Homo sapiens: one gene and its partners. The protein of the gene in region 1 purifies or fractionates together with the protein of each later gene. This does not show direct contact. Each region holds a gene or a part of one and is shown in the gene's direction. Other genes may lie near its edges. The genes, in order: PDCD2, ZNF277, PRMT3, ABHD18, CERK, PRDM10 and SEMA4B.

The links.
Region 2: the proteins of PDCD2 (region 1) and ZNF277 purify together in Homo sapiens (affinity purification with mass spectrometry; one large-scale study listed by BioGRID and IntAct). This does not show direct contact.
Region 3: the proteins of PDCD2 (region 1) and PRMT3 purify together in Homo sapiens (affinity purification with mass spectrometry; one large-scale study listed by BioGRID and IntAct). This does not show direct contact.
Region 4: the proteins of PDCD2 (region 1) and ABHD18 purify together in Homo sapiens (affinity purification with mass spectrometry; one large-scale study listed by BioGRID and IntAct). This does not show direct contact.
Region 5: the proteins of PDCD2 (region 1) and CERK purify together in Homo sapiens (affinity purification with mass spectrometry; one large-scale study listed by BioGRID and IntAct). This does not show direct contact.
Region 6: the proteins of PDCD2 (region 1) and PRDM10 purify together in Homo sapiens (affinity purification with mass spectrometry; one large-scale study listed by BioGRID and IntAct). This does not show direct contact.
Region 7: the proteins of PDCD2 (region 1) and SEMA4B purify together in Homo sapiens (affinity purification with mass spectrometry; one large-scale study listed by BioGRID and IntAct). This does not show direct contact.

What each region holds. Positions count from the first base shown.
Region 1 is NC_000006.12:170,578,217-170,581,637, reverse strand, and holds part of PDCD2 (programmed cell death protein 2), read left to right. Parts: exon of another isoform or gene 1-549; intron 550-1,532; coding exon 1,533-1,636; intron 1,637-2,667; coding exon 2,668-2,781; exon of another isoform or gene 2,782-2,858; intron 2,859-2,981; coding exon of another isoform or gene 2,982-3,002; exon of another isoform or gene 3,003-3,156; intron 3,157-3,421.
Region 2 is NC_000007.14:112,339,195-112,342,694, forward strand, and holds part of ZNF277 (zinc finger protein 277), read left to right. Parts: intron 1-648; coding exon 649-691; intron 692-1,677; coding exon 1,678-1,852; intron 1,853-1,860; exon of another isoform or gene 1,861-1,928; intron 1,929-3,366; coding exon 3,367-3,500. UniProt on the Homo sapiens protein: Probable transcription factor. Involved in modulation of cellular senescence; represses transcription of the tumor suppressor gene INK4A/ARF, perhaps acting via the Polycomb group (PcG) complex PRC1.
Region 3 is NC_000011.10:20,506,216-20,509,715, forward strand, and holds the end of PRMT3 (protein arginine N-methyltransferase 3), read left to right. Parts: intron 1-2,088; coding exon 2,089-2,198; 3' UTR 2,199-3,123; downstream 3,124-3,500. UniProt on the Homo sapiens protein: Protein-arginine N-methyltransferase that catalyzes both the monomethylation and asymmetric dimethylation of the guanidino nitrogens of arginine residues in target proteins, and therefore falls into the group of type I methyltransferases.
Region 4 is NC_000004.12:128,027,906-128,031,405, forward strand, and holds part of ABHD18 (protein ABHD18), read left to right. Parts: intron 1-569; coding exon 570-948; intron 949-2,604; coding exon 2,605-2,767; coding exon of another isoform or gene 2,768-2,771; exon of another isoform or gene 2,772-3,500.
Region 5 is NC_000022.11:46,707,253-46,710,752, reverse strand, and holds part of CERK (ceramide kinase), read left to right. Parts: intron 1-2,764; coding exon 2,765-2,910; intron 2,911-3,500. UniProt on the Homo sapiens protein: Catalyzes specifically the phosphorylation of ceramide to form ceramide 1-phosphate.
Region 6 is NC_000011.10:129,908,836-129,912,335, reverse strand, and holds part of PRDM10 (PR domain zinc finger protein 10), read left to right. Parts: intron 1-110; coding exon 111-251; intron 252-1,679; coding exon 1,680-1,860; intron 1,861-3,500.
Region 7 is NC_000015.10:90,221,830-90,225,329, forward strand, and holds part of SEMA4B (semaphorin-4B isoform 1 precursor), read left to right. Parts: intron 1-1,729; coding exon 1,730-1,911; intron 1,912-2,008; coding exon 2,009-2,159; intron 2,160-3,138; coding exon 3,139-3,349; intron 3,350-3,452; coding exon 3,453-3,500. UniProt on the Homo sapiens protein: Inhibits axonal extension by providing local signals to specify territories inaccessible for growing axons.

The sequences.
Region 1 (3,421 bases):
TGTTGATTGTGTCTACGTACCATTTCTCTCTAAAAGGAACTCCAGGCTCTTTGGAGAGGTGGTTGATTCCAGAACTAGGTCAGGAAACGTTCATATAATGTGGGAACATGGTCATATCAAAGATTAAGGATAAGGATTACTAGGGCCATGTCAGAACTCAAGCAACATGAAAAGGCTCCTGCTTGCAAAAGATGGACAGTTTGAACATCCACAAGGACGCTAACTGCATCAGATATGTTTAATGGGTTCAAAATGATACTTTAAAAAAACTCAGTAATCATCTTTATAGGATACTTGGGAACAGACTCATTTTCAAATTGGTAAATAAAAGGAAAGAGTTTGCCTTCGAGGGGTACATAACTTAATTATGAATGAAGTGATATGTGTGGAATTTACTTCAGAGTAATGGAGGTGGAAGTGGCAGAGAAAGGAAACACTGGACTTGATAGTGTTGAAACTGATTAATGATATGTGGCGGTTCATTATAGTATTTCCACTTTTCTGTATGTCCAAAATTTTCTAAAATAAAAGGAGAATTGAATAGAAAAATGCTTCCTGGAGGTAGCTGTGTCTTACCTGAGACTTGGCAGGAGGCAGTAGGGCCTGAGGGAACAGCATTTACAGTGTCCTAACGGTTATACTGAAACTTTCCACGTATACTTGATGGAACATCAATCTGAAGGCATCCTACACTTCCTCCATCAGACCTGATGGTGCAAGTGAACACCATCAGTGCCTTTCCAGTTTCATCAAAGCAGTTATTTTAGCTTCTCTGACCCAAGGTATATCAGTTCTATTTTAACGTACATTACAAAGACTAATGGTTATACTTAGAGACACGGGTCTGTTGGGGACAGCAGTGGCTTAGGGTGGCTGTAATCCCAGGAAGGAATGTGGAGAAGGAAATGAACATTTTTTTTTTTGAGACGGAGTCTCACTCTGTCGCCCAGGCTGGAGTGCAATGTCACCATCTCGGTTCACTGCAGCCTCTGCCTCCCAGGTTCAAGTGACTCTCCTGCCTCAGCCTCCCGAGTAGCTGGGATTACAGGCACCTACCACCACGTCTGGCTAATTTTTATATTTTTAGTAGATACGGGATTTCACCATGTTGGCCAGGCTGGTCTTGAACTCCTGACCTCAGGTGATCTGCCCGCCTCGGCCTCCCAAAGTACTGGGATTACAGGCGTGAGCCACTGCTCCAGGCCAGAAATGAACACTTGATGACTGAGTGAGTGAGCCTACCAGCTGAGGATACTAATGATAAGGGCTCACATTTGTTGGGTGTCCTGTGATGTGCTGGGCAGTCCTAAGCCCTTGACCATTCTGTTATTTTGAAGCTTTAAGGAGATGCACTAAATGGAAGTCCATATAATAGAGTTGGATGGAGTACCTGGAAATTCAGATGGTCCAACTTGAATGAGTGAATAAATAGGGAAAGCTATCTGATTAAAAGTGGGTCCCCTCTCCATGTGTGAATTGTCAAGTTGTGGGGATTACTCCTGTTTTTCATAATAGTTACGTTGATTTTTCAGGTGAAGCACTTGAGGAAGAACTGGATTCCATGGCAAAACATGAATCCAGGGAAGATAAAATTTTTCAGAAGTTTAAAACTCAGATAGCCCTTGAACCAGAACAGGTAAAGTGGAGCTCATAGCTCCTCATCGTGTTCTCTTCAGGCCATGTTTTATGAGTATAATCTGTAAGAAATAACTTCATAGTAACATTAGTCTGTTCCTTAGGAGCCTATAAAAGCAGGCTTTTGTTATCTTGTTAGAGGAGTTCCTCACACAGATGGGCCATGTAGAAAGGTGTTTTGCAGTGCTGATCCATTTAATAGTTACTAAAAGACTAAAGGTTATACTGTTTATCATACAGGGTTCATTTTCTAAAGCAAGCATCAGGGATGGGAGATGAATGAGATGTTGCCTAAGGTACATGAGGTTTAGGCACCATTGGCCCCCCCGCCAGAAAGAAAAAAGGTTATTTTTGCCCATTTCCAACAGGTAACTTTGGCTTGTAAAATGTGACATGTTAACATTTTTCTCCTTAACCTCCCCTACCATAAACGTAAATCACGAAAGAAAACTAAACTCCCATAAACCAGTCACTGGTTCAAATAAATACACAGGAAGAATAGATCTAGGTCTTAAACACTAAGGCAGTTTTTAGCAATGCATATGCTTTTAGACAAAATACAGAAAACCACTCAGTTGCTGTAGGAAGCTTATTACAGTGAAATTTACTTATGTTTGTAGTAGTTTTCAAAACACTATGTTTCACTTGGTATTTGTCCCTCCTAAAATTTTTTAACTATGAAGGTAGGCACAGACTCTGGGCAGAATTCTGCAATTAGAGCAGAGGCTCATTCTTAGTCCCTTCACAATATATTCATAGGATTAAGTTGCCAACATTAGGTAGTAAAAGCATCATCTGGGAGATATATTTTGATGCCCTCTGAGTCAGATAAACTGAAATAATCACTTTGAGGTGATTGAGAAGGCATTAGTGGCACACTGGTACAGCCAGGTCTGATGGGGGAACTGTGACATGCCTTTTGGGTCAGTGCTACATCAAGAGTAGGAACATTCATGGAGTAGATAGCATGTTACCATTGGCAACTTATAGGTAAGGTATTGATTATTTGAACATGATCTTCATTGATTTTAGATTCTTAGATATGGCAGAGGTATTGCCCCCATCTGGATTTCTGGTGAAAATATTCCTCAAGAAAAGGATATTCCAGATTGCCCCTGTGGTGCCAAGAGAATATTGGAATTCCAGGTATGACCTTAAATAAGGACCATTTAGTGTGTAATCACCATGATTGTTTTTAAACATTAAAAACTTCACCAAGGTAATTTGTGCACATGGGTCAACATGGCAGTATGGAAGGGTACCCTATAATGAAAATCATCAGTTTCCTGCCTCACCTTGGGGCTAGTTCCCTGGAAGGAACTGTCTTGTTTTTTTCTGTTTCCTAGTTTTCAGACACGGTCTATTGACTGACTTCTGTGACAATGAGGATATCTACACTGCTCTCCACCTCCAGTGTGGTTATGTCATTATTATTAGTGCCTCTGTTAACTTTTGTTATTTTAAATAATGTATACCTTCCTTTCTTGTTCTAGTAATTAAAGTCTTTGACTATATACTTTATGAGAGGAGTCTTTACTGTTTAATCTTGGTTTGTGGATTTGTTAGAAAAAATGGATATAAGCATTAAAGATAAATGTCCTTCCCTGCCCAAAAGGATTTGTTAGCATCAAAATCCATTTGGGTAGGGTGGAAATGCTCTTGAGCTATGGATTCACTAACCTTACCAAAGTCATAGCTAATATTGGTTTGTTTCTTTGGGTAAAAAAGGAATTATGAGGACCATACACAAAACTCTGCTTGGTTCTTAGTGCCAAAGCTCTCAATG
Region 2 (3,500 bases), on another chromosome or scaffold:
TATCTTACCTACACTTTTATCACACTGCAGAATGCATACATAGACTTCTACATTTTTAGAAGGCTACAAAATGGATAACATTGTAAATTATAAAAACTATAGATATAAGCTATGAGCAATTATAATGTTGTTGCTGTTCTTTGATATGGAGTCTCGCTGTGTCACCCAGGCTGGAGTGCAGTGTCACGATCTCAGCTCACTGCAACCTCTGCCTGCTAGGTTCAAGCGATTCTCGTGCCTCAGCCTTCTGAGTAGCTGGGATTACAGGCACCCACCACCACACCCAGCCAATTTTTGTATTTTTAGTAGAGACGGGGTTTTGCCATGTTGGCCAGGCTGGTCTCAAACTCCTGACCTCGGGTGATCCGCCCACCTCGGTCTCCCAAAGTGCTGGGATTATAGGCGTGAGCCACCGCGCCCGGCCCAATTATAATGGTTTAACTGATTGACATGACTTGTTTGGACTATGCTGTAAAAAAGTTGGGTATGGAGGGAAGTAGTTAGACTTGGAAGACTTCAAAAGCAGAAGATACCGAACTCAGACTGAGTTTCTAAACTACTCAAACTCCTGTGAATAAGTTGTTTATAACTTCAGCCTGAAAGATTAAATAATTCATATGCTTACAGATGTATTCATTCCTTTTTTAGGATGCACACGAATTTGATCTTCTCAAAATAAAGTCAGAACTTGGTAAGTTTGATTCAGAGGTTTTTTTCTGTGATGCTTCATTTTTTATAAACCATCCTGTAAGCTATGCCTATGTTCAGTAGCTATGATTGGAGAGTGCACCACCAAAACATGTCTCTCTATAGATGGTCTTGACAGAACTCTCTGTGAAGCAGTGATGCTCAACCATAATAGTCAAATATGGTTTTTGGTTTCATATACTCCTTCTTTCTCTTTCCTACATATATGAGTGCTTCAAGTGAAATATAAGTTAGTGGTTAATAATATATCATAAATTGGAGGGGGCTAGTGGAATATGGATTTTTAAGTCAAACTAGAGTTCAGATTCCAGCTCTGGCACTTACTGGCTATGACATTGGGCCTCAGGTCAGAAAAATGTTATGAGGAGTGAATAATGTATGGTAAATGGCTACTGCACTGCTTAGCAGTATAGCTAGGATTGTTTGTTATAGGTGTACCCAATGTATCATTCTAAGTATCACAACAATAGAACGATTTGGGGCATTAAGACATACGTAAAGTACTGACTTGCTAATAGATCTAAGACAGTAAAAAACTTACTTCTCACAGCTCAGCTCAGTCACTGCTTTCCTAGGTCCTTGGATGTGTTACTTTGCTGCTTTTATAGACATATATATACATTGTTTATATAATTAGCTTAGTAGTCAAGCATGGGCTTTGCAGCTGACAGCTATCTATGCGATGCTAGGCAGTTTCCTAATATGTAATGTAGGTATGATACTACCTATCTGATAGGGTTTTATGAAGATTAAATGTATTAATACATGGAAAATTATTAGAATAGTGCCTAGCTCATAAGCCCTGTGTAAATATGTGCTGTTATTATTTGGTATCTATTATTATGCTTTATAATTGTACTGCCTCTTCAGGTTGATTAATAAAAATAAGTGGCTCCTTTAAGAAATTATAATAGTGCAAAAAATGGGTCTGAACAGTTGTCTAATGATTCTGTATTTTGTCATTTTCAGGATTAAATTTCTATCAGCAAGTGAAACTGGTCAATTTTATTCGGAGGCAAGTTCACCAATGCAGATGTTATGGCTGCCATGTGAAGTTCAAATCCAAAGCAGACTTAAGAACTCACATGGAAGAAACTAAACACACTTCGCTGCTCCCCGATAGAAAGACGTGGGATCAACTGGAGTACGTACTGCAAAACCAAATGTGCACTTCTTACTCCAACTCTTTGATTTTGTCCCTTTATTTAATTTCTTTAAGCCTACAGAAAAAAAAGGAATACATATTTATTATAAAAAGTATACATCAGTACAGTGTGGGGAAAAATGTAAAAATATTCAAAATGCTTATTTTTAAAATAATCCCCCTCTTACAAATGAAACCAAGTATTTTTCAGTATTTGTGATATGGAGATAGATACATATGTAGAGAGATGAAGTAGATACAGATTTTTTAAATTATATTTTATTAACAAAATATTGTAAATATCTTTCAATAGCCAGTATCCATCTGTTGCATCCTTTCTAATGGTTGCTAAATATCCATTGTATGGATATAATCTATTCTGCGAGATACTTAGGTTGTTTCTTACTTTTTGCTATTATAATGATACAGTGAATCTATATGCCTACATTTTAGCACACTTATCTAATTATTTAATTAAGCTGAACTCCTAGAAATAAAATTACTATGTCAGAGTTTGCACACTGCTAGGACTTTTTGTATATATTTTGTATATTGGCACTTGAAAAAATTAAGCAGTTGGTCATCTGTTGTTGGATTCCCATGTATCCTTTGCCAGAACTTTGTGGACTGGTTCCCAAGTATCCTTTGCCAAGAACCTTCTGGACTGGTTCTCACATCGTTCTGGATAACCTCAGTCGAGGGCTCCTCTGAGAGACTGTGGGGTTCTAGCTGCCCAGAGCTCCTTCTGTTCTTAGGGAATGTTAAGTCAGTTCCCCCAGAACTTTAACCAGAAAGTTCTAGTTTTTCTCCTTCAGAAAATCCCACACTTGTGAGGGTACCCTGTTTTTATGATCCTTCTTATATAAATTAAAATTTGTAATATTCCAAAAGTAACTTCAAAATGTATTCAGAGAAGGAACCAGAATAACAAACTTTATATTCCGTAAGTGTTTCCTTTTGTGATTACCTAGAAAGAAGGAACTATTAGGCTGGAAAACAAAACACAAGGAAGAGCTTATTATTCTCAATTATTTGAATAATTTGTGTTTGAAAAATTAACTATATTTGAAGTTTGTTAACTTATAAGGAAGAACTAGGACCTTTGAGTAGAAATGAGAAAGATGTCATTTTTAGCTTCACAGGAGGTGTATCAAACAACTAGATCTACCCACTACTGGGGTCAGCTACCTTCGAAGATAGTGTGTTTTGTTATCATGATAGATGATCAAGCAGAGGCTAAGTGGCCAGCGGACAACTCCAGAGGCAACTCTGGAGGGTGGGAGGTCCACGATCTTGGTTTACCAAATCTGGATAGTAGATTTGGTAAGGTTGATGTCAGCCAGTAAAAGTCAAAGTGAAAGCAATCAGAAGTTGTCTCCAGTATAGCCTTTGCAAAATGCTATGAAATTGTTGGCAAGGATACCTGACAAAATTATAGTAAATGTGTACATTCAGCTACCTGGACACTGTATTAGCTTGGTAATTTAATACTATGTATCTGTGGTTGTTTTCAGGTATTATTTTCCAACCTATGAAAATGACACTCTCCTGTGTACACTATCTGACAGTGAAAGTGACCTGACAGCTCAGGAACAAAATGAAAATGTTCCCATCATCAGTGAAGATACATCTAAACTGTATGCTTTGA
Region 3 (3,500 bases), on another chromosome or scaffold:
AATTATCTAATGATTAACCTGAACTCCATAAAGTTTGTAGAACTATCTGACTGGTAATCTTTATTATGTCCACTATTGGTGAACATGTCATATGAGATAGTTTTATATCATTTTCTTAATATAGAGGAATAGGTCAGATATAAAAGCTAAAGCCAAATATACACATTAACATATATACGTACACAAAAATTGTTATATTTTGTTGAATGGATTGCACCTTGGGCCACATTATTTCTTCTATTATTTAACTCCTTAATTATGTGTTAAACTGTGAGTCTCACCTTTTTTGCAAAGATGTAGAGAAGGTATCAGTAATGGAATCTTTATATTCTGAAAATAAATATAACAGGTGGTTATGTTTTACTTGTGTTATTTCACTACCATCTTGAAAAGCATTCAGATAATTTTCCTTGAATATGGGGAATTTGTATTTTTTTAAATACGATATTCATTCAGTACTTCAATAGTTTTATGTAGATTTCCTTGGTCATTATATGGAGCCTCATTGTGTCCATGCAGATGCTAAAGCTATTCCTGACACTGTTTGGTGTTATCTTAATATTATTTAAGCAAAGAATGGTGATCAACTACAACTTAGCAATTTGTTACTTTTTAAACAGCTCTTTAAAATAAATGAAAAATTAAATGAGAAGTATTTATAATTAGAAAAGTACATAGATAAAAATTTGGAACCTACAGAATTTAGGAAATCAGCCTTTGCACAGGTAAGTAATTTTTGTGTGTTCACTGTTTCACATGGGTACATTGTTTCCCTTTTACAGCACCAGTGCATCAATGGCCAATGGCTTTGTCATGTGCCTCTACATTTTCCCAGCTATAATTTTCAGTTCCTCAAAATGCCATTCCTGAAGGTTCTGTGTATGTGTTTTCCTTAAATACCATTACATGTACATCCCTTAAGCCTGGTTCTCCATGACTTCAGCCCTGGCATTGGGTAATTCATTAATTCTTGTGAAACCTTGCCTTTAACTGCCTTCCAACCATCCCCAGTGCTCACCTCCAGCACACTTTAGACACATGCCTATTGTGTAATTGTTAGTATAGCTTTTTTCTTCACCCTGATCACAAACTCTTTGAGGGCAGGGACCATATCTTTTTTCTAGATGCCCAGAACCCACCATAGGGCCTCATATTTAGAAGTTCAGTAAAATGCTTCCATTGACCCTTTATGACCACAATAGTTTTACTCACTTTCACAAGGATTTGACACTGTGGTATGTAGTTAGTTCTCGCTTCATTCAAAAATTAATGAAACAGGGCTGGGCGCAGTGGCTTACGCCTGTAATCCCAGCACTTTGGGAGGCTGAGGTAGGTGAGCGCATCACCTGAGGTCAGGAGTTCTAGACCAGCCTGGCCAAAATGGCAAAACCTTGTCTCTACTAAAAATACAAAATTAGCAGGTCATGGTGGCGCATGCCTGTAATCCCAGCTACTTGGGAGGCTGAGGCAGGAGAAATCACTTGAACACGGGAGGCAGAGGTTGCAGTCAACTGGGATTGTACCACTGCACTCTAGCCTGGGCAACAGAGAGAGACTGTCTTAAAAAAAAAATTAATGAAACATAATGCTGCTCTAAAAAATGAATATTGGCTGGGCACAATGGCTCATTCCTGTATTCCCAGCACTTTGGGAGGCTGAGGCGGGTGGATCACCTGAGGTCAGGAGTTCGAGACCAGCCTGGCCAACATGGTGAAACCCCATCTCTACTAAAAATAAAAAATTAGCTGGGCATGGTGGCATGCGCCTGTAGTCCCAGCTATTCGGGAAGCTGAGGCAGGAAAATCTCTTGAACCCAGGAGGCGGAGGTTGCAGTGAGCCAAGCTTGCACCAGTGCACTCCAGCCTGGGAGAATGCAGTGAGCTGAGATCACACCACCGCACTCCAGCCTGGGTGACAGAGTGAGACTCCATCTTAAAAAAAAAAAAAAAAAAAAAGAATATTAACCTTAAATAAAGTTTAAAAAGTGGGAAAACATCACAATAAAAAGAAGTGCTAGTTATACATTGTTTACTTTTCTGCTACACTGTATTCCTTGAATTCTTAACAATTTTTGCCTTTGTTTTACAGGTGAAGCCTTGAAAGGAAAGGTCACAGTTCACAAGAATAAGAAAGATCCACGTTCTCTCACCGTGACCCTCACGTTGAATAATTCAACTCAAACTTATGGTCTCCAGTGAAACAGCCATAAAAGCACACTACCTTGTAGTTTTTAATGTGGGGGTAGAGTGGGTCAGCAGGAGGGAGCTGGTTTTATGTGAGCAGATGGATGGATGATGGACCCTTTCCTAATGAGCCTCCTCAATAAGAGAGAAGTTCTCATTGTGGGAATCTGACATAGTTCAGCTGAGGAAGAGAATCAGCTGATCCTCATGGTCTGCCACGTAATCATTTTCTTAGACGTTTGCTCCACCAGATTTAACCAAATGTAACTCCCACATTGAGTTTATCTATATTGAAAATCATTTACATTGGCCTATATTTGGAAGAGAGATAGTCTTTTGTTTTTAATAAGTTTCTTACTATAAATTTTAAACAAATTGGTTAGTTATTTGGATATTTTATTAAACTAGTAACACAGGTACTACACATTTTATTATGGACTCCTCTGAGGAGGAGTTTTTAATTGTATTTGCTAGAAAATCAGGATGTAATAAAGATTTGTATAAAAAAACTAAAATATGGAAAAGAGCTTCAGCCTTCATATACAAATCATATATGCAGACAGCCTAGTTGATTATCTAGCATACTTAGGGTTCTCATTTTGTAGTTTCTTCCCTCTTTGTGACTATTCCTTAGCCTTATAGATTTCTAGTACTGCCCAGGAAATCTAATTTCAATACATTTATCCTAGGTTTCATGAAAGTTTTTAAAGATTGGGATAAATATGTACTTATTTACTAACGTATTATCTTTTTCAAACCAGATTTATGTGCAAAGGTTAAACATGTAACTGTTACTAAGCAGTCTATAAAGTTGTCATTTACAATTACTGATTCAATTTGAAATGTAGAATAAAATTTTAATAAAATGTATCAACTTATAAAATATTTTAAAAATATTGATATTATAAAAGTTTTCAATAAAATATATCAAACAACATTATAAAATATTTCAACAGGGTATGGTAGCTCATACCTATAATCCCAGCATTTGGGAGGCCAAGGCAGGAAGATCACTTAAGCCCAGGAGTTTGAGAGCAGCCTAGGCAACACAGGTCTGTACAAAAAATTCTTTTAAAAAAATTAGCCAGGCATAGTGGTGCATGCCTGTAGTCCTAACTACTTGGGAAGCTGTGGTGAGCAGATTGCTTGAGTCCAGGAGTTGGAAACTACAGTAAGTCAAGATCGTGCCACTGCACTCCAGCCTGGGTAACAGAGAAAGACTCTGTCTCTAGAAAAGTTAATTAATTAAAAGTAAAAAACAGGGCCAGGCATGGTGGTTCATGCTTATAATCACAACACTTTGGGAGGCCAAGGCAG
Region 4 (3,500 bases), on another chromosome or scaffold:
ATAAAGTGTAAGTCATTTATCTTAGTCGTGAGTTAAATTTTAATACATCTTTGTTTTTTAAAAAAGTCATGGTAAATATATACAACATAAAATTTACTATCATAACCATTTTTAAGTGCATAGTTCAGTGGCATTAAGTATATACATGTTGTGCAACCATCACCACCATCTATCTCCAAAACATTTTTATCTTCTCAAACTGAAACTTACCCATTGAACAAAACTATTCATTCCTCCCTTCTCCCAGTCTCTGGCAACTGCCATTCTCTTTCCATCGCTATGAATTTTACTACTATAGGGACCTCATACAAGTGGAATCATACAATATTTGTCCTTTTGTGTCTGGCTTATTCACTTAAGATAATGTCTTCAGTGTTCATCCATGTTGTGGCATGTGTCAGAATTTCATTCCTTTTAAGACTGCATAATGTTTAATTGTTTGAATATACTACATTTTATTTATCCATTTATTCATTGATGGACATTTGTCTTTTCTCTTTTTTTTTTGACAAAGCTGTTAATACCCTATTTTATATTAAATAATGTTTTCTTTCCTTTCATATGTTCAGACAGATTCTTTCAAAATGGGACAAGAGTTTGTGAAACACTTCACTAGCAGTGCAGACAAGCTAACTAACCTTAATCTGGTTTCCAGAACTTTAAATTTAGATATATCAAACCAAGTTGTATCCCAAAAACCTGCTGACTGCCATAATTCTAGCAAAACATCTGTCAGTGCGACATCAGAAGGACTCTTATTGCAAGATACCTCTAAGATGAAGCGCTTCAATCAAACACTTTCAACCAACAAAAGTGGTTATACAAGTCGCAACCCTCAGTCATACCACCTACTTAGTAAAGAACAAAGCAGAAACAGTCTTCGGAAAGAGTCTTTAATATTTATGAAAGGAGTCATGGATGAATGTACTCATGTAGCAAATTTCTCAGGTACTAATTTTTATATGAAATTGAGAATATTTGCTGATGTGTAAGTATTTGTGAAATATTTTAAAAGATGCTCTATAAGATAATTTTATATTTTCAAGGGTATATTTTTTTGTTGGCTCCAGAATATGTTTGCAAAGATAAGTTGGTTACTTAAATGTATCATATTCTATCTATGAAAATTTAAGATTATCTTATTCATTAAGAAACACACTGGACAGCCGGGTGTGGTTGCTCATGCCTGTAATCCCAGCATTTTGGGAGGCTGAGGCAGGTGGATTGCTTGAGCCCAGGAGTTCAAGACCAGCCTGGGTAACATGGTAAAACCCTGTCTCTACCAAAAAAAAAAATACAAAAAAGTAGTCATGTGTGGTGTTGCAAGCCTGTAGTTCCAGCTACTTGGGAGGCTGAAGTGGAAGGATCGCTTCAGCCCAAGGAGTTGGAGGTTGCAGTGAGCCAAGATCACACCACTGCACTCCATCCTGGGTGACAGCAAGACTCTCACACACACACACAAACACACATACACACACTCTCACACACTCTGGAGCTGGACACAGTGGCTCACGCCTATAATCCTAGCACTTTGGGAGGCTGCGGTGGGAGGACCGCTTGAGCCCAGGAGTTTGACACCAGCCCGGGCAACATAGTGAGACCCTGTCCTTATCAAAAATGTAAAAATTAGCTGGGTGGCCGGGCCCAGTGGATCACGCCTGTAATCCCAGTGCTTTGGGAGGCCAAGGCGGGTGGATCACTTGAGGTCAGGAGTTTGAGACCATCCTGGCCAACATGGTGAAACCTCATCTCTACCAAAAATATAAAAAATTAGTTGGGCGTAATGGTGTGTGCCTGTAATCCCAGCTACTCAGGAGGCTGAGGCAGGAGAATCATTTGAACCCGGGAGGTGGAGGTTGCAGTGAGCAGAGATCATGCCACTGCACTCAGCCTGAGTGACAGAGTGAGACTCCATCTCAAAAACAAAAATAAATTAGCTGGGTGTGGTGGCATATGCTTATAGTCCCATCTACTCAGAGGCTGAGGCAGGAGGATCCCTTGAGCCCAGGAATTCAAGGTGGCACTGAGCTATGATTGCACCACTGCACCCTAGCCTCGGTGACAAAGTGAAACTCTTATCTCCCAAAAGAAAAACACTGGATTGCTGAGTGTGGTGGCATTCACCTGTAGTCCCAGCTACTCAGGAAGTTAAGGAGGGAGGATCACTTGAGCCCAGGAGTTCAAGGCTGTAGTGCACTATGATCTTGCCAATGAATAGCCACTGCATTTCAGCCTGGGCAATACAGTGAGATCCCATCTTTAAAATAAATGATTGAGGCGATGCATACCTTACGTACTCTGATGTGATTATTATGCATTGCATGCCCGTATCAAAATATCTCATGTAACCCATAAATATATACACCTACTGTGTACCCACACCCACACAAAAGAAATAAATTAGTTAATTTTTAAAAACCACAGTATTTTGTATCATTTTTAGAATATTTATCTCGTACTGGAGATGAGTAAGGTAGCATATTATAGTTGATTTTTAATTTAATCAAAAATGTTTAGTTTGACGAATGTTTTATTTACTGCATTGTGTGGGTTTTTTTATTTTCTAATGTGTATATGTTGAATTTTTAAAAATCCTATACCTAGTCCCAGTTGATCCAAGCCTCATTATAGTGGTTCAAGCCAAAGAAGATGCCTATATTCCACGAACAGGAGTTCGAAGTTTACAAGAAATTTGGCCTGGTTGTGAAATCCGATACTTAGAAGGGGGTCATATTAGTGCTTATCTTTTTAAACAAGGACTCTTCAGGTAAGACGGCTGGTCTAAACATGTATTCGTTCATTTGTTGTTTGTTTTCTGGATTTTTTGCTTCAACAAATGTAAAAGATCACATATTTTTATAGTCTGTTTCAATCTTTGAATTCCCTCCTCACCTCCCACAAATCTCACAGAGTTACTTTTCCCTCTTTCCTAGAATTTGATCTTCTTATTTTCTTCTAGAGAACTAAGCATGATGCATATTATAGGCATGCTTTATCGTGTGGCTTTCCCCTCTTCAAATATTAATGGCCAGGTATTTTAGGATGTGAGAAGGAAGATCATGGCTTGTTAAAGTTGCTTTGGTGCATCAAGAGTTTTTTCACTCTATTCTGATGTTTTTTCAGAATGGCCTGAACATCTGTGGAATAATTTAGCAATGTTTTTCAGTTAGCAAGTGAATATTGAACCTTAAATAAGAAGTGCTTTTAATGTGAACAACCTTATATGACTCCACTATTTTAGTTAGAACTTATAAAAACTTTTATGCTGGCTGGGCGCGGTGGCTTACGCCTGTAATCCCAGCACTTTGGGAGGCGGAGGCGGGTGTATCACGAGGTCAGGAGATCAAGGCCATCCTGGCTAACACGGTGAAACCCCGTCTCTAGTAAAAATACAAAAAAAAAAAAAAAAAAGTAGCCGGGCATAGGTGGTGCATGTCTGTAGTCCCAGCTACTTGGGAAGCTGAGGCAGGAGAATGGCATAAAACCCGGGAGGCGGAGCT
Region 5 (3,500 bases), on another chromosome or scaffold:
CAGTTTGGGATTCTTCTTTTCCCCAAAATTCCTAGAGATTTCCCAGAACTACTATTTTTAATGCCCATATCATGGTCCATTATGTGGGCATGCCATATTTATTTAGCCTCTCACTTGTAGATGTTCAGGCTCTTTCCAATTTTTGCTCTTAGGATAGCATTGTTGTACATAAATCTCTCTGCATACATCTACATTTTTAAGGTAAATTCCTAGAAATGAAATTAGTCATAGGAGATTAACATTTTAAAATCTCTGCCGTGTACAGCCATATTGCTTTCGAAAGAGATTCTATTAACTTACATTCTTTTTTTTTTTTTTCGTTTTTGAGGCAGAGTTTCGCTCTTGTTGCCCAGGCTGGAGTGCAATGGCGTGACCTCGGCAGCTTCGGCCTCCCAAGTCCAAATGATTCTCCTGCCTCAACCTCCCGAGTAGCTGGGATTATAGGTGCCCAACACCACGCCCAGCTAATTTTTGTGTTTTTAGTAGAGACAGGATTTCGCCATGTTGGCCAGGCTGGTCTCGAACTCCTGACCTCAGGTGATCCACGCGACCCGCCTCAGCCTCCCAAAGTGCTGGGATTACAGGCATGAGCCACCGCGCCCGGCCAGTTTACATTCTTTCTTATAGTATATTATTTACTGTCTTTGTCAACATGTTTGGTATTATCAGTATAAAATTTCTCTGCTAATTTGACATGTGAAAGTCTCTAATATTTTAAGAAATATGTTTATTGGCTAGCTGGCTTCTTGGAATTGATTTTTATGTCTTTGGCCCATTTTCTTTTGTTGGCCATAATTTCAGTCATTTGTTCTCTTATCCAACAAATAATAGGCAATTCATATTTATATTCATATTTTTGCAAATATTTTTGCTAATTTTGAAATTGTCTTTTAATTTTGCTTATGGCATTAATTCTTCCCAGTAGAAGTTTTCAAATTCATGTACTCAAGTCTGTCCAGCTCTTCTGTGCTGTTCTTTATGCTTAAAATTTCACTCTTCATCTTGAGTTTAGCTATTCCCCTGTAGTTAATTGCCTTGTCATTGGTTGGCTTTTTGTTTTCTTCTCTCTGTTCCATCTGGAGTCGGTGAGCAATGTGTTATAAATTGCAGCGGATATTTATTGAAATCATTATTCATTCCACAAACATTATTGAGGGTCCTCCAGGTCCCAGCACTCTGCTGGTGCTAAGGTTAGAAAGGGAAATAAAAGGAGCCCCTGCCCCCAGGTGCTGACAGGGAGACCCCTTTGCTCCCCTCCTAATGCGGGAGTGTTCTGTTCATGGGCTCCAGGAAGCAGGGGGCTCCTCCATGCACATCTCCCCAACTCCACCCGATGGCAGCTCCTCCATGTACTTCTTCCCACCACCTCCACCCGACAGCAGCTTGGCAGGAAGACAGTCGTCTTCACTTTTCAGCAGGGATGGGGCTGGCACCTTATTGCACCCACCCTAGCCAAGGGATCAGCCTCGCCTCTTGAGGGCACGCCTTCTCCCCAAACCCAGGGACATGCCGTGCAGGAGGCTGGGAGGCCTGGCCAGTGAGGGCTGCTCTTCCTGCGGCTGAGCTGTCTGTCTGAGTGATCTGTCTGTCTAACACACAGATGCTACACTGCCCATTCAAGGATGCCCTGTCCTCGAAACCACAGCCCCGCTGGGAAGGCTGCCCCGGTGCAAGGTGTAGGCTACGGGGAAGGGCAAAGAGCCTTCCCATGGGAGCCGGGCCCAAAGCAGGTGGCCTGAGTGGTGGGTGGTGGGCAGAGATCCCAGCCCTGGAGACTGGTCGCGCCTGCACAGACAGACCCACTGGGGAATGGGCAGGCACCTTGATGCTGTCATGCTTGAGGGAGGCCCCTCAGGCTGCACCCCCTAGTCGACTCACACCGCTCCTCTACCGGCGGACCTTCCCCCTGCAACCCTCTCTTCCCGGGTGATGAGAGCTCTTGGGCTGCCGTAGGCTATAGAGATGTCCAGGAAACCTGAGCCCTGTCCTCTGCCTTCCCTCTGGGCTGCAGTGACATGTCTGTCTCCATGCCTGCACCTCTCATTCTGCCACCTCAGTGTTGGTTCCCTGTGGGTTACCCCCGGCATAGGACAGCACACCCTGAAACCAACCCGTCCTTTCTCCCTTCAGCCACTGTCCCCTTTCTCCATCTCCTCTCCTTAGATTGTCTCATGCCCCATTTTGTCCGCATTTATTCCGTCCCCTCTGCTCTTGCCTTGGGTCCTCAAGACCACCCACACGGCTGGTGATTTGCTGCCTGAGCTAGAGTCGTGCTCTCGGCTGAGATTTCTGACGGGACAGAGCAAGGCTGCACAGCCAGCTTAGCAAAGGAGAAACGTCCCCGCGCAGACTGCTGTGCCTCTCCCGCAGTGCGGGTCACCTGGAGTGCACCCTCTCTGCTCCCACAAATGCAGCAGCACAGGTGTACTCTTCCCGCCCCGCAAACTTGAGTCCTGAGACCCAGAGTGTAGTGTTTTTGAGGGGGTACAGGCATGCAGGCATTCTCTGCCTAGCCACCCAAATTCCAGACTCACAGAAGGAAAGCCAGTATTTGCCATCAATCTCATTATTTGTACACGTGGTCTAGGCCAACTGGCACAGAGGCACGACCTTATCACTTAGGGACATTTCAGGAGCCGCACTTCTAGATGCCTGCCAAGGGCCAGGTGTGCAGGCTGCCCCTCCTGAAGCTGGAAGCCTCAGGCCTGCTGCGCTCAGAGGGCCGCACCTGCAGGAGCCCTGACCGGCTGTGTTCCTCCTGCAGCATCGTCTGTGTCGGCGGAGATGGTATGTTCAGCGAGGTGCTGCACGGTCTGATTGGGAGGACGCAGAGGAGCGCCGGGGTCGACCAGAACCACCCCCGGGCTGTGCTGGTCCCCAGTAGCCTCCGGATTGGAATCATTCCCGCAGGTATGGAGCCGGCCTGGCATTCTCTGTTCTCTTCGTTCCCGTCCTTAGGAATTGTTCTGCACAAGTAGCCACCTCGGACACTTAATAACCCAATTATACTCAGTTTAGTTCGTACAGATTTCCTAACATTAGGGCCACTCTTGGGGGGATATCATTGAGAGTATGACCCCAATGAAATAGACACTCGTGGAAAGGAAAGTTGCCCGACTCCCCCAAAGGCTGCTTCACGCAAGGCAGGAGAACCCCACCGCTGGGGGTGCAGTCCTGGAGTGGGGAACCCCCGGTGCCCGGGAGCAGGTGGGTAGGTTGGCAGGGGGTGCGTTCTGGAAGAAGTGGCTTCTGGACCTGAAGGAACCGGGAGTTAGGGGTGGGTGTGGGCAGGAATCGGGCTGGGGAGTTGGGAGGAGACTGAGTGGGAAAGGTGGGGGCGGAACCAAGGGCAGGACCTAGCCGAGCCCGGGAACAGCTGGGCTGTGTCCTGAAGTGCTGGTTCGGCTTGGTCCATTCAACATCCTTCTAGGAACCACCTTGTTCTTTGAAAAATCACAGTGTTAAGCTAAGTCAAGCTGAGGGCCTGAGCGTGGTGTGTT
Region 6 (3,500 bases), on another chromosome or scaffold:
ACTGCACCCGGCCAGGATATTGTTTTTAACTGAACCTTTTCTCTGGAAGGATTTCCCTTAACTTCAATCAATATATGTCTGGTTTCTGGGCCTGTTTTTTCTCCTTCCAGGCCACTTCCCCTCACCAGTCACAGCAGTCCACTGTGGATGTTGGCCAGCTCCATGATCCTCAGCCCTACCCCCAGCACGCCATCCAGGTGCAGCACATCCAGGTCAGCGAGCCTACCGCCTCGGCCCCGTCCTCCGCCCAGGTACCCTGCTCCACAGACTATTTGGAGGTGTTATCATGGCTTCAGGGATTATCAGAGTTAATGAGAGGGAAGACATTCTCTTCAGACCTAGTCTCCTCAGCTACTGTTATTTTTGGATTTTTATTAAAGGATCTTACCTTTGCCTCCAATTTTTATATTGGCATTGTGGACACATATTAAGCTGTTAGCTGCTTCTGCCCTCATAGAGTCCTGTGGTACGACATCCTAGAAACAACAGTGGTCTTTGCTTTCATTCTAAATGCAATGGCTAAGTGGCTTCTATGATTTGGAACAGTGGCTTTCTGGAGTATTATGGTATATTTTATGTTACTGTGTTTGTATGCTTGAGTCTGGAATTGAGATACATAGATAAGTTCTCAGAGTTCAGAGAGGGAGAGATTAGGTTTAGGAGGGAATCCAGGACATTTTTTAGAAGAAGTGGTCTTTGAGGTCTTGAAGGAGGGGTACAGTTCTGACATAGTCGTTGGGGAAGGCAGTCTGATCTGAAGAAGCTCATGCTGCAATGGAAAATGTACATTTATAGAAAACAGGGTTATTCTGTTTAGATTACTCACAGGAAATGATGTTTGGAAAGGAAGTTGGGAGGGTAGTTTGGAGCAGGATTGCAGTGTGGCAGGCTGGAGAGCGCTGGCCTCATCCTGTTATCAGGAGTGGGCCTCTTCACCCACCTGTGCTGAACTCCACCAGCCAGGTGGGATTTGCCAGTACTGGTGAATGGAAACGATGAACTTTGGGTTTCATTTCATTTTGTGTTCCAGATTAGCTTTGTGACACAGGCAAGTTACTTCACCTCCCATTATTTTTAAACTTATAGAATGTAGGTAATTATATTTTCTTTCATTTATCTTTCCAACAGTTGATTGAAATTAATTTTTTTGCATACTCTGGTAGAGAATCCTTTGAAAGCAAATTAGAATTTCATAGTTATGCTTGCTTTTCATTGAGTTTATTCTTATTTAAAATATTACTTTTAATAATAGCAATGATAGGCCAGGCGTTGTGTCTCATGCCTGTAATCCCAGCACTTTGGGAGGCCGAGGCGGGTGGATCACCTGAGGTCGGGAGTTCGAGACCAGCCTGACCAACCTGGAGAAACCCCTTCTCTACTAAAAATACAAAATTAGCTGGGTGGGTTGGCACATGCCTGTAATCCTAGCTACTCGCGAGGCTGAGGCAGGAGAATCACTTGAACTCAGGAGGCGGAGGTTGCGGTGAGCCGAGATCATGCCGTTGCACTCCAGCCTGGGCAATAAGAGTGAAACTCCATCTCAAAAGAAAAAAAAAATAGCAACGATAGTTTCAGTATTATAATTCATATGAGTCTGGTGTACTTCCTTCAGTTATTTGTGAGTCTTCACTATATTAGAAGCTCGTAATTCCCTACCATTGCTTTCTCTTTCTCCCCAGGTATCTGGGCAGCCGTTGAGTCCCTCAGCCCAGCAGGCTCAGCAGGGGCTCAGCCCCTCCCACATCCAGGGCAGTTCTTCCACACAGGGGCAGGCTCTGCAGCAGCAGCAGCAGCAGCAGCAGAATTCCTCTGTGCAGCACACGTACCTGCCCAGTGCTTGGAATTCCTTCCGTGGCTATTGTAAGTAAGAAGGGACGATGCCGTGTCGGTCAGGGGTGGGGGATCTCCAGCCATGTGTCATAATTTCTTCAGCTTGTGATAGATTTTTAAAGTATCTCTTGGCCATTGTTTACACTCTCTATGAATGTACTTCAATGGGTTTCATGACAAAACTCAAGGTGTAGCATTCCGCTTTCACAGAGCTACCCTGATAGGACATTTTCGAAACGTCAGGTATATTGCTGGAGGAAATGTAGCTATGAAATTAAATAGTAAGATAGTTGGATATAGCTTATGTTGAGTCATCCCTTCCACCAATATTTGTAGAATGCCTGTCTATCAATCGCTGTACTAGACACTGGCTATGCCAAGATTAATATTCTCATTAGTATCGGTAACACCACACAATAATAATGTTAACCAGCTTTCATTAAGCTCTTACTACATTGCCAGGAATGATTCCGAACCATATATATCACAGTCAGTATTCACAACAACCTATAAGATAAGTACAATTGTTATTTGCATTTTACAGATAAGGCAATTTCCACACACTCACTTTTCCAAGAGCTAGTAAACAGAGGATTGGAACCCAGGCAGTTTGGCTTCAGAGTGTCCACTCTAAACCACCCCACTGTGCAGCTGACCATCATCTAGTAAAGGAGGGAGATAGAAGAGTCGTTGATTCCAAAGCCCTGAGATTCGTGCTGTGGAAACAGTAGCAGGCTGGCTGACAGAGGTCGGGGCAGGTAAACCCCTTGGTGGGGAAACAGCTTTGGGGCAGGCCAGGAAGTATGAGACCTTTCTCATGGAAGGTGTGGAAGGAATAGGAGTAGACTTTAACAGACCTCAGTAGTAGAAACTAGGAGGAAGAGGTGCTGAGAAGGGAAAGGGTCGGTATTGATCTTTCTTCTACTGTTGATTTATTTTTGGGGGCCCGTCTTTGTCATGATTGATCCTTGGCTATGTTACATAGATTTGCTATGGAGTCAGGCTCAAACTCTACCGTCTAGTTATTTTTACAATCAATATTCTTTTTTTTTTTTTGAGATGGGGTCTCGCTCTGTCACCCAGGCTGGAGTGCAGTGGCACAATCGCGGCTCACTGCAACCTCCGCCTCCCGGGTTCAAGTGATTCTCCTGCCTCAGCCTCTTGAGTAGCTGGGATTACAGGCACCCGCCACCACGCCCAGCTAATTTTTGTATTTTTAGTAGAGACGGGGTTTCACCATGTTTGCCAGGCTGATCTCGAACTCCGGACCTCAGGTGATCCGCCCACTTCAGCCTCTCAAAGTGCTGGAATTACAGGCATGAGCCACTGTGCCCGGCCACAAACTATACTCTTAAACATTGGACGTCACATTGAGGGCTGGGTCTAGTTTCCAGTCAGGGACTCTCTTACCACTAGAATCTGGTGAATAGACTGACCTCTGTACTCAGTGTAATTCCTGTGAAAGAGAGTGGAGCGGGCCAGGCGTGGTGGCTCATGCCTGCAATCCTAGCACTTTGGGAGGCCGAGGTGGGCGGATCACTTGAGGTCAGGAGTTTGAGACCAGCCTGGCCAACATGGTGAAACCCCATCTCTATTAAAAACACAAAAAAAATTAGCCACGTCTGGTGGCGGATGCCTGTAATCTCAGCTACTCAGGAGGCTGAGGCAGA
Region 7 (3,500 bases), on another chromosome or scaffold:
CACCCACATCCATGCATGGCCTTTCCCATCCCGCCAAGGAGTACAGCTTGGCTAACAGCTTTTCTCTCTCACCTTTTAAATTAAAATATCTTACTACTTTTTTCTTTTTTTTTTTTCTTTTTATTTTTAGACAGGATCTTTGCTCTGTCACCCAGGCTGGAGTGCAGTGGCACGATCACGGTTCACTGCAGCCTCGACCTCCTGGGCTCAAGCAGTTCTCCTACCTCAGCCTCCCGAGTAGCTGAGACTACAGGTGTGCGCCCCCATGCCCAGCTAATTTTTGTATTTTTTGTAGAGATGGGGTTTTACCACGTTGCCTGGGCTGGTCTCAAACTCCTGGGCTCAAACAATCCACCCACCTCGGCTTCCCAAAGTGCTGGGATTACAGGCATGAGCCACTGCACCCAGCCATTTTTTTTCTTTTCTTTTTTTTTTTTTTACTTAAAAAATGTGAAAATAGCCGGGCATGGTGGCTCACGCCTGTAATCCCAGCACTTTGGGAGGCCAAGGTGGGTGGATCACCTGAGGTCAGGAGTTTGAGACCAACCTGGCCAACATGGTAAAACCCCATCTCTACTAATAATACAAAAGTTAGCTGGGCGTGGTGGTGCACGCCTGTAATCCTAGCTACTCAGGAGGCTGTGGCAAGAGAATCGCTTGAACCTGGGAGGTGGAGGTTGCAGTGAGCCGAGATGGTGCCACTGCACTCCAGCCTGGGTGACAGAGCAAGACTGTCTCAAAAAAAAAAATGTGAAAATAGAAAACTGTACACACAAAAATCACTTACAAGTTAAAGAGGCACTGTAGCATCAGCTGGAGAGCACAGACCCTGGAGGCCAACTGCCCAAGTTCAAACCCTGCTGGCCTAGGATCTTGGGCAAGTCCCTCACCCCCTCGGTTAACAGTTTCCTCTTCTGTTAAATAGGAAGAATAACACTGACCTCAGAGTTGTTATGTGAATTATTAATCCACGCAAAGCTCTTAGAAATGTGGTGGGCAGTGACTAAATGTGAACTATGAATGTTATTACCCCACCACCCCAGCACAAGAAGGAGTCACTGGTATCATTTTAGAATGCCCCCTCCAAATCTTTTTTTTTTTTTTTGGCATATGTGTAACTCTGTGTATATATATATATACATTTTTTTTTTTCCTTTTTGAGACAGGGTCTCACTTTGTCATCCAGGCTGGTGTGCAGCGGTGAGATTTCACTGCAACCTCCGCTGCCCAATCTCAAGCAATCCTCTCACCTCAGCCCCTCATGTAGCTGGGACTACCAGCATGCACCACCATGCCCAGCTAATTTTTTTGTATTTTTAGCAGAGACAGGGTCTCAAACTCCTGAGCTCAAGTGATCCACCCGCCTTGGCCTCCCAAAGTGCTGGAATTATAGGCATTAATAATATAAGTACCATCCCGACCTTGTACTTATATTATTAACTCACTCAGGAACATGGCATTAGGCTATATTGGGGTCCTTTGGCTTCCTTGTTTGCTCAGCAGTGAATCGCGTCCATATTTAGGAAGGCTCTGCTTAGTTACAGTAAGGACCATCCTCCTGATGGATGCGTACACTGCTCTTCCTGACTTTAGATGGAACTTGGTCCTGGCCTTCTCCTGCCCTTCAGTCCTGGTGTCTGGGGTGGGTCCATTGAGGCAGTCCTGTGCCGTGCATCCCCGTCATGGCTCAGCATGTGCCTAAGCCCAGCCCATCCGACTCTCCCTCCAGGGCGATGAGGGTGGAGAGCGGGTGCTACAGCAGCGCTGGACCTCCTTCCTCAAGGCCCAGCTGCTGTGCTCACGGCCCGACGATGGCTTCCCCTTCAACGTGCTGCAGGATGTCTTCACGCTGAGCCCCAGCCCCCAGGACTGGCGTGACACCCTTTTCTATGGGGTCTTCACTTCCCAGTGGTAGGGCCTCCAGACCTCGCTGGAGATGGAAGGGTGAAGGGTGGCTGGGACTGGGGCCCCCAGGGCTCCTGGGTTAATCTGGTTATTTCCTCTGCAGGCACAGGGGAACTACAGAAGGCTCTGCCGTCTGTGTCTTCACAATGAAGGATGTGCAGAGAGTCTTCAGCGGCCTCTACAAGGAGGTGAACCGTGAGACACAGCAGTGGTACACCGTGACCCACCCGGTGCCCACACCCCGGCCTGGAGCGGTGGGTACTGGCTCCCTGCACCCAGAAGGGGTGCCGGGAAGATGTGGGTCCCCACACCATGCTGGGAGCAAGGCTGCCTAGCCTCGGGCAGATCACTTGGCTTCTCTGAATCTCTTTTCTCATCTTTAATATGGGGATATAGGCCCAGGCCTGCTTGTGTACTGGGTTAGATATAAGTATGAATGTCAGAATATCTTCAGTTCTGTTTCAGGATACAAGTGTGTCCCCATCAGGGCACTTGCTGCAGGCTGTTACAATCATCTCTTCATTTGGTCCTCTCCCCTACTCAGCTGCAAGCTCCTTATTTAATTATCAAGTGACTGAATGGGCAAGCTGTGGGGAAATAATCCTTTCTTCCTCCCTTCTAGCCTAACGGGCTACCCTGATAGCAGACCTTGAGACAAGGATATACGTGCCAAATAGTTTATTAGGGAGGTGATGCCAGGAAGCAGCATGAAGGAATAGGAAGGTTGAGAGGAGGAGGGAGGGAAACCAAAAGAGGGTGTGTCAGCACGCTGTTGTTGCTGTGGGCAGCTGGAGCTGGGTCCTGCTGGAGCCCCTGACAGATGGTGTGGAGCACCTCTCAGAATTTCAGGAAGCCTCAGGCGGGGCAGGAAAGAACTGCCGACTGCACTGGGACGCTCTGCCCGGCCAGGGCTTCCTGAGAGCACTGGTGAAGGGTGCAGAGGAGCAGGGAGTGTGGTCCTGGTTCTTGAGGCCCCTGGGCATATGAGGCTGGGGTGGTGGGCAGGGAGGAGGCACAGCAAGGAAGCCCTCCAAGCACTCGGTTTCCCCGCACCCTGGGCTTTGTCCTTGCTCCCTCAGATGTGCACACTGGCTCTGTAGAGCACTGCCAGGGATGTGCCCTGGCTCCGGGCGGGGGGACAGACACCGCTACTGTCCACTGGGGAAGCAGGGCCCGCATCCTGCCTGCCACCCCGAGGTGTGGCTGGCCTCACACTGCTGCTTTCTCCTCCAGTGCATCACCAACAGTGCCCGGGAAAGGAAGATCAACTCATCCCTGCAGCTCCCAGACCGCGTGCTGAACTTCCTCAAGGACCACTTCCTGATGGACGGGCAGGTCCGAAGCCGCATGCTGCTGCTGCAGCCCCAGGCTCGCTACCAGCGCGTGGCTGTACACCGCGTCCCTGGCCTGCACCACACCTACGATGTCCTCTTCCTGGGCACTGGTAAGTGTCTGCAGCCCAGCAGGCTCAGGGGAAGGGGTGCACGTGGCTGGTGGGTCATGGGCAGTGGGCTCCACCCAGGGCCTGAGTCCTGTCCACACCCCAGGTGACGGCCGGCTCCACAAGGCAGTGAGCGTGGGCCCCCGGGTGCACA